3 separate regions of the Homo sapiens genome follow, and all the other regions are linked to region 2. The links come from fine-mapping of genetic effects on gene expression. A gene starts in region 2. Each other region holds a variant in brackets. All regions are shown on one strand. Distances are between the middles of the regions.

Evidence for each region. PIP is the estimated chance that this variant, and not a neighbour inherited with it, causes the effect.
Region 1: its variant is the best candidate, but not a certain one, in a credible set for the expression of TSPAN7 in thyroid (GTEx, PIP 0.81).
Region 3: its variant is the best candidate, but not a certain one, in a credible set for the expression of TSPAN7 in thyroid (GTEx, PIP 0.63).

The regions. Positions count from the first base shown.
Region 1 is chrX:38,486,287-38,491,516 of GRCh38, forward strand. No RefSeq gene overlaps it. Among named protein-coding and RNA genes, the nearest start is that of TSPAN7, 73 kb to the right of the region's middle. The variant C/T (reference allele first, on the strand shown) is at 3,266.
Region 2 is chrX:38,558,869-38,564,098 of GRCh38, forward strand. It overlaps TSPAN7 (tetraspanin 7), which reads left to right and starts at 2,674. Exons shown (of 8, transcript NM_004615.4): 1 at 2,674-2,759. The coding sequence starts at 2,679. RefSeq lists an enhancer at 2,774-3,275.
Region 3 is chrX:38,478,037-38,483,266 of GRCh38, forward strand. It overlaps the pseudogene BAG1P1. Among named protein-coding and RNA genes, the nearest start is that of TSPAN7, 81 kb to the right of the region's middle. The variant T/C (reference allele first, on the strand shown) is at 2,200.

The sequences.
Region 1 (5,230 bases), 73 kb before region 2:
TTTAGCTTTTCAGAAATCTCCAATCTGTTTTCCATAGATGTTGTACTAATTTACATGTCCACAAACAGTGTATGAGAGTTCCCTTTTCTCTGCATCCTCTCTAACATCTCTCGTTTTTCTGACTTTTTAGTAATAGCCATTCTGACTGGTGTGCGAGGGCATCTCAACGTGGTTTAAATTTGCATTGCTCTGATGATAAGTGATGTTGAGCATTTTCATATATTTGTTGGCTGCTTGTATGTTTTTTATTGAGAAATATCTGTTCATATTATTTGCCCACTTTTAATGGGGTTATTTGGTTCTTTTCTTTTTGAATTTTTGGAGTTCCATGTACATTCTGGGTATTAGTCCTTTGTTGGAAGCATAGTTCACAAATATATTTCTCTCATTCTGCAGGTTGCCTGTTTACTCCATTGATTATTTTTTGCTGTGCAGAAGCATTTTAGTTTAATTAAATTCCATTTTTCTATTTTTGTTTTTGCTGCATTTGCTTTTGAGGTCTTAGTCATAAATTCTTCGACTTGGGCAATATCCAGAAGAGTTTTTCCTAGATTTTCTTGCAGGATTTTTATAGTTTCAGGTCTTACATCTAAGTGTTTAATCCATCTTGAGTTAATTTTTGTATATGGTGAGAGATATGGGTCCAGTTTCATTCTTCTACATATGGCTATCCAATTTTTCCAGCACCATGTATTGAATATAGTGTCCTTTCCCTAGTGTATATTTTTGTCGACCTGGCAAAGATCAGTTGATTGTAGGTATGTGGCTTTATTTCTGGGTTCTCAATTCTGTTTCATTGATCTGTGTGTCTATTTTTGTACCAGTATCATGCTGTTTTGGTTACTATAGTCTTGTAGTATAATTAGAAGTCAGGTAATATGATACCTATAGCTTTGTTCTTTTTGCTTGACTGCTTTGGCTGTTTGGGCTCTTTTTTTTTTTTGGTTCCATGTAAATTTTAGGATTGCTTTTTTCTAATTCTTTGAAAAATGACACTGATAATTTGATAGGGGATACATTAAATCTGTATATTGCTTTGAGTAGTATGGTCATTTTAACAGTATGGATTTTTCCATTCCATGAGCACGTGTTTTTCTATTTTTTGTGTTTGACTTCTATGATTTCTTTTACCGGTGTTTTATAGTTCTCCTTGTAGCTTTTGATAACAATTTAATTCCTCTTTCTTTCCTAATTGTTAGAAAGGAGTCTTTATTTGTCATTTGGCTCATTTTTTACCATAATTCTAAGATGAGGTAAGAACATCAAAAGTACTCATAGTGAAATCCCTCTAAATCTTCATTTGTGAGTTAAAACTCCCTTGTTTTTAAATTTAGAGGCTTATGTACATATTTTTTTCCTGCTCCTAATCCCTCATTGGGAGTGACCATTAGTTACAGTTTGTCCAAAGTGGTCCTGTTGTCTTGGTATAATGATTAATAGCACCCCTTTCCCTCTCAAAAGGGTCCTTGTTTGGAATATATATTACATGGTCACCTTACCCATTGAGAAGGAAAAGAAAACCTATACTATGAATAGAGTTTGTAAAACATTGAACTTGACCATGATTTGTTTCCATTTTATTACTTAATCATACCAGTAAGAACCCTATCATAAATTTTCTATTCATCACTTTATATTTTTTATTCATTGACCTAATTATTTCTTCTAGAAAGTTCTATTGAATGGCATATGTACCAGGTGTTTTGTTAGGTACTGGTGGCTTCTTAGGGTTCAGGACCTTGCTCCATTAACTGAAACATCATGTGAATGAGTGCAAAAGACAAAAAATACAGATTTATAAATCCTACCAAAATAGAAAATAATCCATATAAGTTGAATGAGTTGGCCATTTCCTGTTGGAAGATGTTCTCACAGGGTATCCTCCGGCTTTGTGAGTCCATGCTTAGTATTTTATTTTCCTAAATACCACTTTCCTGGTGCTGTTTCACAATTAGAACACTTTTGTATGTTTTCTAACAAACAAGAAGGCATATTCTATTCAGGGTAAACAAGATTTGAACCCCAGAGAAGAGAGTTTTGCTTTGAACTTTGGACTTCGGACTAAATAAAAATAAAAATTCATTTTTTTCAGCAGCTTTCAATTTGTATTTTCTCTGTTGCTGAAAACTGACATCTTAAAATTTCAAAAAGAAGCCTGGAGTCTTCCTTTACTGCTTAAGGTAAAATATGAACACATATCCTTTATCTAAATACAGGATATATTGTCATTTTTAATTTCATGGATGGTTGTAGTCCAAAAGTATTCTCATATTGCATTTGAAATTTGCAAAAACTGTTAATATTCAGAAATAGTCACATTTTTCAATCTTGGGGGGAATTAACTGGATAAAACATGAGTGCATAGTTCTGCAGTCTTCCTGGCCTTGGTTCTAGGGCAGAAAAGAGGCTGGCAGTGTAGAGGAGGAGGAAAAACAAAAATTCAAACCCAAGAACAACCCTAGCAGGTAACTAAATAAGAGATAAATTAAACCAGATGCAATGCTCTCCAAATGACTGCAAAGAAAATGATTGTTTTCTACCTTGTACATAAACAATTAATCATCATATTGACCTTATAATAAGGAAATGCTAAGCTTAGAGAAAACTTCACCATATAAAATATTACCTGCATTGCAGCATGTCAGGGTCATTTAATATATTTCAATTTCCTATACATTTACTTATTCCTCTTGGAAGAGAATAATGTCTATATAAACCTTTCCAGATGAGATAGTTTTCTGCCTTGTGCAAATGTTGACAAATCTTTCCGTCATTACTTTAGAAAAAAAAAAGAGCCAATATCAGAGCCATACTCTGGAGGTAGTTAAGCACACAGCCGTTAGAATCAGACCAAGGTAGGCTCAAAACCCAGCTTCGTCACTGTGAGTGTGAACTTAGGCAGGTAATATAACTTCTATTAGCCTCAGCTTTCTTGCTTATAAAATGGAGATGTTAATATCTCACAAGTATGCTACAAAGGTTAAGTGATAAAATGCACAAGAAAATGCTGCCAAACAAGTAGAAAGAACTCAAAAAATGGTGCTATATGATCGATCAGTTTTGGAATAAAATTTCAGAGATCCTCTCAAACCCCAGTAAGTATCAGAAGCAGATCCCAATATGTTTTTGATCCAAGTTTTCTCACTGCTAGACCTCTTTTGCTGAATCACCCTCTGTGGGTGGCTACACCCTTTCAAGCACGAAAGCACATAGGTACAGCTTTGAGTGTTCAAGATCAAGGCATTTAGAACACAAGCAAAGGCAG[C/T]TCCTCTTACTTCCCTTGGCTGAGCAAGCATCAACAATGCCTCCCGAGGCATTGATCGTTGTGGAAGCAGGAGGAGCAGTGCAAAGGTGGCAGAAGTATGTTTTCTCAGTTCTCCAGACCAAGATAATTATCCATTACAGAAAAAAAAAAAAAAAAAAGAATGAGTGCCTATTTTGTAGGATAGGGTAAGATTCTGAAACATTACACGTGAGTGGTAAAATTCACCTTCCCTTTCACTCAAATATAAACCTTGGGATGCCTTGAGAATCTTTGATCAGATTCCCCAGAAGTAGTCCCTGATATGAGGATTCCTGTGCAAGTGATTTATGGGGAAGGTGCTCCCACAGGGAGACCAAAACAAAGTGGGGAAAGCAGGACAGAGAAAGAAGCCAATAAACAAAGCTTCAATGTCAGGAAATATCACAGCTTAGTCATGATCTCAAGGTGGAGCTCTGGGGTGCAAATCACACCTAGAGTTTATTTCAACATGAGACAAGGGAACTGGGCTTTTATATTCTTGCCCAATGGTCGTGGGCCTCCCCAGGGTAATAAAAAACTCCCAGGGTACATGGGAGGTATGTACAAGTGAAGCAACTCCATTAGTCCAAGAGAAAGCCGCCAAAGAAGGTCACAGGTGCTAGTAACTAGCAGAAAAGCACCCTGAAATTGGGTGCTGAGCATATCAAACAGGGAGAAGGGAATTTGGGTAGGGCGTGTACAGTATCCAGCACCAGCTTGCTACCCTGCTTGACCTTGGAAGGTATCAGAATTCAGTGGTAATGAGGAACCCCAATCAGAACCTTTTTTTTTTTAACCAGGAATCTAATAGATAAGATGAAGACTGTCTTATAGGTATTAACCTATATTTATTCTTCCTTGCTACTTCCATTTACAGGGAATACAGCGGTTTTGGAACCTACATCTGTAGTCTCCTTTACCATCCCTGAAACTCCGTCACTCTCATCAGGGGTCCTCATTTGTAAACATACCAGCCAAATCAGGTCCAAAGCTCTAGCTAAGAAAGCATTGCATCTTTTTTCTGACCCTCTACTCCGTTTGACAGCATTCCCCATATTGGAACCACATATTGATTTTTTTAAATAGCTTCACACAACTACTTAAAAGTCAAAATATCCCTGGCAACCGAAAAACTGACAGGCCGTGAAATAGCTGCTTAAGGACCTGTCATCCAAACTGAACTCACCTGAAAACTGAAAACTGATTTTACACAAACAGTAAAATGGTTTCTGTGTATTTGTCATTTTTCTAAAAGAGACTGTAAGGGGTACTGAGTTTAGTTCTGAGCTGTTCTGCTTTAGACAAGGGACCACCTTGCACCAGGCAGTTATGAAATAAGAGTTGTTTCATTTTCTTCTCCCAAAACACACACACTCAGTCTCCTCCTCACCCCACCTGTGCCCTCCACTAAAATCACTGAGAAGCTTGCCCATGGCCCACCCTAACAGGTTTGCTTCCCCAAATCCTACCTTCCCTGTGCTTCCCACAGGTACCTCAAGCAAGCAGCACTTCTCAACTGGGGCTGATTTTGTCCCCTGGAAGACATTTGGCAATATCTGAAGATATTTTTGGTTGTCACAGCTGGGGAGAGGGCACAACTGGTATCTACTGTGTAGAGAAGCATTTTTGGCCTCTACATCAGTTTTTTAAAAATCAGTATTTAAGGGGAGACACTGTTCTGTGCACTGTCTCTCCCCCGCATCAGACAAACAAATACATCTGTATATGTACAAATGTAAATAGCTTCACACAAGTACTTAGAAGTCAAAATATCCCTCGCAACCCAAACTGATGTTACACAAACAGTAAAATGGTTTATGTGTATTTGTCATTTTGTACATCTCCAGCCCCAAATGAATGTCAATAGTGCTGAGGTTGAGAAACCCTGTATATGTTGGTGTCTTAGTGTAGGTTTCGTCAAAAACAGACCCTGAGACAAGGATTTGA
Region 2 (5,230 bases):
TGCTGCCAGCTCAGGGTTAGTGTGACTAATATGTTCTGGTTTGCGCAAGGCCTTCCTGGTTTTAGCAATGAAAATCCTGAATGCAGGGAAACCCCTCAGTCCTGGGCAAACTGGGATGGCTTGTCACCCTATATATATGTCATGGGCCACAATTGGAGAGCAAGGATCTAGCTACAAGCTATGTTAATTTATCTACTAATTACATTACTGAATATTCATATTTATCTTTATATTTAAATGGTTTATTTTTGCTAGAACAGTCCAAGTTTTCAAGAATCTGGACCTAAGAGATATTCCAAAAATGCTCCAAACTGTGAGACGGTGAGTTAGCTTAAACTGATGGGTGTCTTCTGTGAATGTCATATATTAACTCACCAAATTATCTATGATGCTTAGCAGTGTCACTGTTGGGCTGAACATTGAGATTTCTGACCTCTTTACAAAATAATTATACATGGCCAAGATCTTTTGATGCTAAGGATACCCACTGGGCTTGAAGTCTTCAGTATCCTTTCCCTGCTGCTGCAGCAGTTGGAATCAGCCTGGAGTCTGTAAGAATGAAAGAGAAAGCTCCTCTCTGAAGTTGGGTTTAAGTTCATTGCAGTATGGGGCAATGCCCCTCAACTCTTGCTTAATATTCAGACCACCTGAAGAGCTTCTAAAACGCGGAGCTTTCACCCCACACCAAATGACTCCAAATAGCTGGGATTGGGCACAGGCATTCATAATTGTTTTAAAACACCAGGTGATGCAAATGAGCACCCAGCATCGAGAATCAGTGTGCCAAGACCCCTTTATAACAGACACCTTGCTCAACCTGTCCCTTCTTTCACCTGCACCTATATTCCACCCTTGTATGCCCACATACCTTTTTGTTATAGTTGACAATTTCCTTAAACAGGTTCTCCTCTTCCTCATATTTTTGTCCTGTTCATACAGTTACCTTATTGACCTGAGACCACATATAACTGGATAGAGGTAATAATTACTCCTGTAACAACTGACCTTAGCAGGCTTTTCCCAAGCCTTATTGACTCTGTTTTTCACTCTTTCACAAATATGTATCCTTAACATCATCATCCACGATTGAGTTAACCTGTGATAGTGTTGCTGTTTTTGACTAGTCTCTTAGCAATCAAGCTAAATCTCCCACTGAATCTGTGTGTTCCTCTACAAACCATATCTGGGTGGAATGTACGTTTTTATTGTGATATAATTAATATATCATAAAAGTCATCCTCTTAAAGTATACAACTCAGTGGTTTTTAGTAATTCACAGTATTGTGCAACCATCATCACTATGTAATTCTAGAACATTCTCATTACTCTAAAAAGAAGCCGCTTACCCATTAAAAGTCACCTCATTCCTGCCTCCCACTCGCTGCAACCACTAATCTCTTTTGTCTCTATGGATTTGTCTATTTTGGATATTTCCTATACATGAATCATTCAATATGTGGTCTTTTGTGTCTGGCGTCTTTCGCTTAGCATATTTTCAAGGTTCATCCACGTTGCAGCATTTACCAGTAGTACTTCATTCTTTTTTGTGGCCGAATAATTTTCCGTTGTATGGAGGCACCGAATTTTGGTCATCCACTCATCAGCTGACGGATATTTGAGTTGTTTCCAATTTTTGGCTATTGTGAATAATGCCGCTATAAACATTCATGTATATGGTTTTGTGTGGGCATATATTTTCATTTCTCTTGGGTAAATACCCAGGAATGGAGTTGCTAGATCATATGCAAACTCTGTTCAACTTTTTGAGGAACTCCAAATTGGTTGTGAACATTATTTTTTGACCTCAATGCAGCTTTCCTTTACAGGAGGGAGGTGGACTGTACTTGTTAGCGCGCTGCAAATGATTCTCAGGCATATTAAACATTTTTCTGTATTCTGTTAAACATTGTATGCGCAGCAAGAATGACGCCTCATACAGACCTTTCTTGTCATTTCGTTTTATTATTTCAAAATGTAAGACAAATCTGAAAAATGGAGGAGCCTGCAGATACCTGTGGTGGCGAGGATTTGGGGTCTGTCTGAGCTCCGGCGTTCCTGCCCATCCCTCCAGCTGTATCTCTGGCCACCTGTCTGTTCCTGGCACAAACAAGGCCTGCTGGTTGCCAAGGACATGACTACGGGGCCATTTCCATGTGAGAAGGCCCTGGGGGGTGTCAAAATGCAGAAACGTGACTGATGGGCAGCGGGGCACCCATAAACTTCCCATAGCCAGGTGCAGGCATACCTGCAAATGTAACGCCCAACTGTGTACAAAGCAGAAATCTAAATGCCAGGGCGGACTGGGAGAGGTTCCCGTGACCTCTGACCCGGCCTCTAAATTCTCCCATTCCCTCCCCACTGTCCTGCCGCGCCCCGTGTCGCCTCGCCTGGCCTCGCCTGGCCTCGCCTCCCTCCTCCGCTGGGGGTCTAAGCCTGCGCAGTATTGCGAACGCGGGCGGCGTTTCCCGCATGCGCAGTCACTGCCCGGCCCGGCTTTTTCAGTAGGAGCCCCGCGCGGTGCGCGCTCACGCACGCGCACGGCCTCGCCTGCGCGCTCACGAGGCCTCTCGCGGCACGCGCCCCCGCCCCGCGCCGCCCCGCCCCGCCCCGCCTCTTCCCCCTCCCGCGCGCCCGCCCGCCGCCTGCCGCCGCCGCCGCCGCCGCCGGAGCTCTGTAGTATGGCATCGAGGAGAATGGAGACCAAACCTGTGATAACCTGTCTCAAAACCCTCCTCATCATCTACTCCTTCGTCTTCTGGGTAAGTGCCCACGCCGGGCCGGTGGCCGAGTCGCTGTCCATCGGTCCGTATGATGATGCTCTGAGAAAAGAAGTGGGGAGGAAAACCCAAACCAAAAATCAAATCTGGGACCCCTCTTTAAGGAGACAGGCGCGGGGTGCTGGGTCGGGGCTGCAGGATGGCAGGGTGCGGGTCGGGGCTGCTGGAACCCTAGACCTCGCTCCGCGCAGGCTGCAAGGGGCTGCGGAGTGTCGGTGACTGCAGGTTGTCGACCTTCCAAAAAAAAAATGTTAATGCATTAGTTTCTTTTATAATCTCCCGGGATAGGGTCAGCTCCTGGGGAAAGTTGCGGGTTTATTCGTCTGTTTTCCTCGCTGTACACCTTTCTCTCCCTTCCCCTACCAGCCGGTTCGCGGCGCCTCTTGGAGCTAACCTGTGGCGGGCTAGGAGAGGACACGGGAGCGTGGGGTTTAATCTCAGATTCCCAGTTATTCCTGACCCCACGGGGCTGCGGGAGGGAGGCACCAGAAGCACCGTGCCTGCCTGGCTGGGCAAGGGCGACCGAAGTCTCCCAAGCGCACGATGGGGAGCAGGCGTTGTCACCGCGTGGAGGCGCACGAAAGGGAGAGGGTCTTACATAAGCCGGGGGCATCTTTGAGGTTTCTTGGTGACCCAAGAGATGAGTCTTTGGATTCCTTTCCCACCTCCCTGCATCCTTACACTCCCTATCTGGTGGTTCTGTCACTGCATGAGCACAATCCGCAGCGCCCTGGCAGAGGGTCCCCTCCACTTGGTGATAGAGATAGCGCCCCAACTCTACTCCCCATCTATCCAGTGCTGCCGCCGGTCCTTGAAGCTCAATGCAGAAGGGTGACGTCACCCCTCAGCCAGGGCCGCGGGGGGCTGCGTGGTGCACCTCGCGGAGGGATGCGCCTTTCTGCGCGGGGGAGGGGGGAGGAGGAGGAGGGGGAGGAGGAGGAGGAGGAGGGGGCTCCAGGCTTGTGCCTTACCTCATCCTGTTTGGCAAATCATGGAATCAGTGCAGGGCTGACACTGCAGTGATTCACTGAGAGAGGTGCGTGGTACTTAAAGACCATTCCCTGTTATTTCTCTTTTCATGTCGGTGACCCCGTCTTCCCTAGTTCCTTACGCCCATAATCAAGCTACAGCTACCCCGCAGGGGAATGAATATCGACCCTCTTCCCCCCTTGTCCCCCAAATCTGGGTCATTTTAGCTTCTACGGCAGTCATTTTGAAATCTGAGGCTCTGTAGGAAAAGCCAGTTCAACCTTTGCTTGTTTTCTTCTTGCACCCCTCACCCCCGCCCCTCACCCACCACCATATATTAGCCCTATTTTTGCTTTGAAACTGGAGCACAGTGCTGTATGAGGTACCGAGAATCAGCTAGATGGCAAACCGGACTGTTTGCAATGGTCAAGGAAGAAGCAGAGATTTATTGAGGATCAAAAATATTCCTAATGCACCCGGACATTTCCTTATCGCTGGCGTTGGTGGTTCTTCAAGTCAGGGAAGGTATGGACTCCCCAGACCACACATACCAGGAGCTCTGCAATGAGCTAGGATAGATTAACTGGCATATTGCACAAGGCAAACACAGAAACGGACTTTATTTGGACTGACAACGACACAGGTTGAAATGTCTCAGTAGTGGAATTGTGAGCTATGCACAGATCATATCATCTTATGCTCTGCCTGTAAAAAGCAGTAACACATGCTGATTGCTGAAACTTCCCAGTAGCCATTCCTGGGAACTGGTTTAGCTTTTTATGTGTTTCCTTAAATCTCTTTTTGTTTGGCCCTTTATCATTTACTTGACTTCCTATTTGTTACTGGAGTGAATCATATTGGGAGGGGGGAGGTATTTTTATCTTCCTTAAAAATAAGGTTAACAGTGCACATGAAGAAATATTGTTCTTTCAGAATCACTGCAAGCTGGTAAAGAAGGGGGTCTTCCAGGCTGAGGCTTTTCATATGAGCACTTTAACTCTCCTTGCTTACATTCCACCCCTATGAATCTAATTACTTAATGCCCCCAATACATCTTAAACAATCACTGCATTTTATGTCCTCCGGAAGTTCCTTGATGCCTTCATTTTAATTTTTTCTACTTTCAAGATTTTCATAGTCTTAAATGTTAACCTGGAACATTTTCAATAGTTTAAATACCAAAGCCAGTTCTGGCTTTGGTTGTTGTAATCATTTCATACTTACAACCAAAAGAATAAGATCTCTTCGGATGTGTGAGGATATTTTAAACAAGACGTTATTTTTAAGTAGCCTTATTGAGGCATGATTCATATGCCATAAAAGCCACCTATTTAAAGTATACGATTCAGTGAGTTTTAGTATAAGTAGCACATATTTTAGTATATAAGTGGTATATATTTCTGTATATTTAGTATATTCATAGATATGTGCAACCATCACCCCAGTCAATTTTAGAACATTGCATCATTTCACAAGAAACCTGT
Region 3 (5,230 bases), 81 kb before region 2:
CCAGGGATTAGTACCTGCTTTATTATTATTGCAATGAATAAATTATTCATCAGGGTGGCTAAACGGCTTACAGAGATAAATAACACTACATGAGTGTAATAAAGATATTTCCCTTTTCTAAATAAGTAGCACTTGTAACTCAACCTGTAAGACTGTGCTTCTTTCCAGAGAGGAAGAGTCCTCTAAATGGTACCTGAAGAGCAAGAGCTTTAAACAGGCCCTAGTGCAAAAGAGTTCAAGGCCTCAGTGATGCCTAGAATTCTGATTGTGCCAATTCAGTCCCTGCTCCCTCACTCTGGTATATCCAAGGCTACCACAAAGTGGAAGGAGGAGGATGTGTGGGCGAAGAGTGGGTGGAGAAGACTTCCAAGAATTGGAAACTATGCAGACTAGCAGCCGGTAGTTAATTAGTTTTACTTCTGAAACGACCCCTTTGTGCAGCTTGTCCTTCCTGAGAAAGAGGTTAAAATGCTGCCATGGCTGCTTTTTAGCAGTATAGTGATTAAAACAATCCCAGGGCCTAAATAAGATGACTCTACTTGTTTGGTTGAGGAGAGAGTGGTCCTCCTTCATTTTCTTTTTCTCCCCTCCTACTCACTGAACATCACATCAAAAAATGAGCAAATTCCTACACTTTACTTCCTATTCCTATAGGAGCTATTTAGAGGGAGGAATGCTCATTAAAGGAGATTCTAGAATCTAAAGTTGCCTGTTTTACTGAAACTGGGAAGCAAACTGGAGATGTTACTAGCACAGCTAGGACACAGTTGATAAAAGTAGCTAACATCTATTGTGCATTTAGCATATGCTGGGCCATCGCTTAAGGGCTTTTCATGGTTTATCTCATTTAATCATCACTACGATCTATGAGTTGGGTAGTGTTATGATTATGAGCATATATGTCCAGTTTTTCAGATGAATAAGCTGGGGCTGAGAAAGGTGAAGGGACTGGGCCAAGGTGAGTTAGAATGGAGGCAGGATTTAACCACAGTAGTCTGGCCCAGAGCCCATTGCTCAACCACTGTGCTACCTGCCTTCCAGCTTCCATTTGCCTATAGTCTAGTGGGAGTCATAAAAGAACTAAGAGAAGAAGATGAATCCAGACTGGAAGTGGATGGGCTCCTGGCTAGGCCAGGAGCCTCACCAGTCAGAGACCCTGGACCCCCTGGCCAAGCTCACCGCGGGTGAAGAAAAAAATCCACCCCTGCTCAGCCTGGAGCGAGAAGGTGACCAAGGAGGAAATGGTGGCAGCCAAGCTCAGCATGACCGTCACTCACAGCAATGAGAAGCATGACCTTCACGTTACCCTGCAGCAGGTCCAGCGGTGAACCAATTGCCCAAGACCTGACCCAGGTTGTTGGAGAGGCCACAGGGGTTCCACTGTCTTTTCAGAAACTCATATTTAAGGGAACATCTCTGAAGGAAATGGAGATACCTTTGTCAGCATGTGGAATACAAAATGGTTGCCAAGTCATGTTAATTGGGAAAAAGAACAGTCCAGAGGAAGAGGTTGAACTGGAGAAATTGAAAGAGTTGGTGAAGCCTGTGGAGAAGAAAGCTGACGAACTTTAAGAGTTGAATAAACAGCTTACTGGACTCCAGCAAGGTTTTCTGGCCAAGGATTTGCCAGCTGAAGCTCTCTGCAAACTTGGTAGGAGAGGAAAAGCCACAACCAAACAGTTTATGAAGATCTTGGAAGAGATCGACACACTGATCCTGCCAGAAAATTTCAAAGACAATAGATCAAAAAAGAAAGGTTTGGTAAAAAAAAAAAAAAAAAAAGTCAGACGTTCGTAGCTGAGTGTGGCACAGTGGAGCAGAACATCTGCCGGGAGACCCAGCAGCTGCAGTCTACAAACTTGGCCCTGGCTGAGTAAGGTGTGGCAGAAAGAGGCTGTGCTGCCCTGAAGAACAGCACCACCAGCTCTGCCCTCTCTGGAGCAGAATTTACCTGATTTATTCTAGGGACAACTGGCCTATTGCCAATTTTCCTATTCCTAGCCCAGTTCTCAGTGAAAAACTGTTGTCCTTGTGATCTTGAGTAGGGCGCTTGTCTGTTTTCTCATTGTGTCTCTGTGGCTGTGTGGTCCAGCAGCCTACTTTTTCTGGAGAGGGCCTCCCCTGCCCAGGTTTTCCCAGCTATTTGACCTTCTGGTGCTTTCTTTGGGCTGGTGAGATCTCTCCTTTGTCCTGAGCTAG[T/C]TCTAGGTTTATAGGCCACCCTGGTCTTCAGATACATGAGAGCTTTTTTGCTCTTGTGATCACACAGTCCCATAGATGTAAAACCAGAATCACTAGGAGGTTGCATTTATAATCAGGAATGTTGAGAATGGCTTAGAACAGGTGTTCGGCACATAGTAGTCCAAGTGTCCCTCATTGTGACTTAATTCCAGAACATCAGGCTGGGTTATTGGTTTATAGGCATTGTTCTTACCTTTTAGTGACCTGACTAGCCTCAAGACATGAAATATCAGGGGGCCATTCCTGGAATGAAGCGTATGGTTGATGCATGGACTTCCTCGTCCCCAGTAAAATCTTCAGAACCCAGTGTTGACTGAGTCCGTGCTTGAAACCAGGCATAGCAATGGCTTAGGCGGGGCAAAGAGGGGGAGCCACAATGAATAAAGCAGGCTGGTGGTGAAGCCAACCATAAATTTCCCAGGAATGACATGTGCTTCCTTCAAGGGCATTTCTGTTAAAAATACCCTTCTGAGATCTGTATTTCCTTCAAGGCCATTCTTGTCCATTTTGTGGATTCTCTTGCAGAATCACTGTTATTGAAAAAGTTTGAGCACAGGTATGGTGGCACATTCCTGTAGTCCCAGCTGCTTTTGGAGGCTGAGGCAGGAGGATCGCTTGAGCCCAGGAGTTTGCATGTAGCCTGGGCAACATGGTGAGACGCCATCTCTAAAAAATTAAAAAGTTAACGAATAAATAAATAAAACAGTTTGAATGCCCATCATCAAGCAGAAGAATGTTTTCTTTTTGTTTTGGTTAGTGAGAAAAACCATTCTGTGGTTCTAGGCATAATTTATGTTTAACAGAGTAGCCACAACGTTTAATAAGAAGTTACTGTGTCTTGGACATTGTTCTAAGTTTTTAAATATGTATTCACCATTTAATCCTCACATAACCTAAGAAGTAGACAGGTATTAGCCCCGTTTTGGAGATCAGGAAACTGAGAACACTTAGGTAATCTGCTGAAGGTCAGACAGTACATGGCAAAACCAGGGCACAAAGCTGGGCAGTTTGGTTTCAGAGCCACTGTTTTTACGCTCTACCGTACTACCTCTCGACCAACATAGGGTTACATGCTCCCATTCTCTATATCCTCTCCCTATACTTTTGTCTTCCATGTTAGTCTTTCCACTTTCTCTCTGGCCCTCTCTAGTTCATTCTCCCCAGAGCACTCTGAGTGATTATAAAATACAAATCTTATCATATCAGTCCCCTGCTCAGAAACCTCCAATAGCTCACTACTTCTCTTAGGATAAAAGCCAAAGTCCTTACCTACACCTTCTCCCATCTCATCTCGAGCCCCTCTCCTGTTTGCTCTCTGCTGTCAGCCACTCTGGTCTTCTTTCAGGTCCTCAGATGCACTGTGCCCTCTCTTACCTGGGGGTCTTTGCACATGCTGCTACTTCTGCTTGGACAGCTCCTCACCATCCTTCCTCCACCCCCATCCCTTGTGTACATAACTCTTATTCATCCTTCAGAATGTAACCCAAAGTCTCTTCCATGGAGACCTCACCTACTCTCTTGAGACCATATCAGGCCCCCAGATGTGATCCTCTCATGGCTACCCATAACTTTTCTTTCACAGCATTCACCATAGTCCATGATAGCTTATTGGTGGAATTATCTGGTTAGTATTTGCCTTTAACACTAGACTGCATGTTCCTTAGGTTAAGGAGCTTCTTTGTCTTGTTAACAGCATTATTTCAAGTACATTGTCTTGTATATAGTAGGACCTCAATAAATATTTGGAGAACAAAACAAACAAACAAACAAGGTGAACCCATGCCAGATGACTGGGTTGAGTTGGTCAGGGAAAATTTCACAGAAGGCAGATTGGAACTAGGCTGAAAAGCAGGCTGGGTTTGATTTAATGAAGTGGGCTATGAAGAGCATTCCAGGTGAGGGGAACCAAAGGAGCTTTACACGTCCTGGGACCAGCAAACTGAGCAGTTTGGCTATGGCAGAGAGCTCTTGCAGTCATTTGCAGGAGACCTTTATCACACTTCTAATCCATGAGAAGTAGCAGGGTGAATGTGAAGAACTCTCAGAGCCCAGTGACTATTGGTGCATATTAGCCAGGGCACAGCGGCACTGCAATGACAAGGCGATGGGCCTGCCAAGCCCTCCCCACTTCCTTTGGGCTGCCAGCATTCCTCTGAGTCTCCATGAGGTTTGTTTAATTCAGGGGGTGGCAGTAGGAAGCCCTCACACATTCTCCAATTTGGCTTTACCATCAGCAAAGCTATTTTGATTCCAATCTGGCTTCTTGGATGCAAGGAAAGATGAGCAATTGGCACCCCCAAAACTTCAACAATGGGAAAGTAATAGAAAATTCAGTTTAAAAGGTATTAATAAATTATACAGGGTAGACTAAGAAGAGTCTTGAAGGCTGGTATAAGGAACTTGGTCATACAAGAATTATTATAATTCTCTGTGCAAGTACACACACACACACACACACACACACACACAATGTTTATCCATAGAGGAAATCACTGTGGGACTTGTTTACAAATTAATCTCTTGAAATTTAATGTCATCAAATTCCCATCTTCCACAAATAAATTTGCTGAGAACTTTAAGTCATTAGCAAGTAAGTGTTTTCCAAGAATTATTTGATGACCAAAGAACAGTTTAACCTACTTGGGAGACTTTAATAAAGCTTTCTTCTACAGCCCCATTCTTGACATTAAAAAACATAATAAGTAATGGTTTGACAAATATTATGTATTATTTGGAAATACATTTTCTCATCCTTCTTCACAAACATTTTACCTCAAATTACAGCCTTTCAATTGGTCTCATAGGATTAGGTGATTTTTTTTCTCATTCAGATTTATGTGTCTATATTTGTGTGCTAATTTGAAAATTAAGTACATATTTTAAGTACAGAGATACGAGTTTTCAATCCAAATCTGAAGACAATTGTTAACTGCTTCTGAACATCTCTTACTGCCAACAACCAGCAAATGGGAAAAACTTTCTCTAGGGAAAC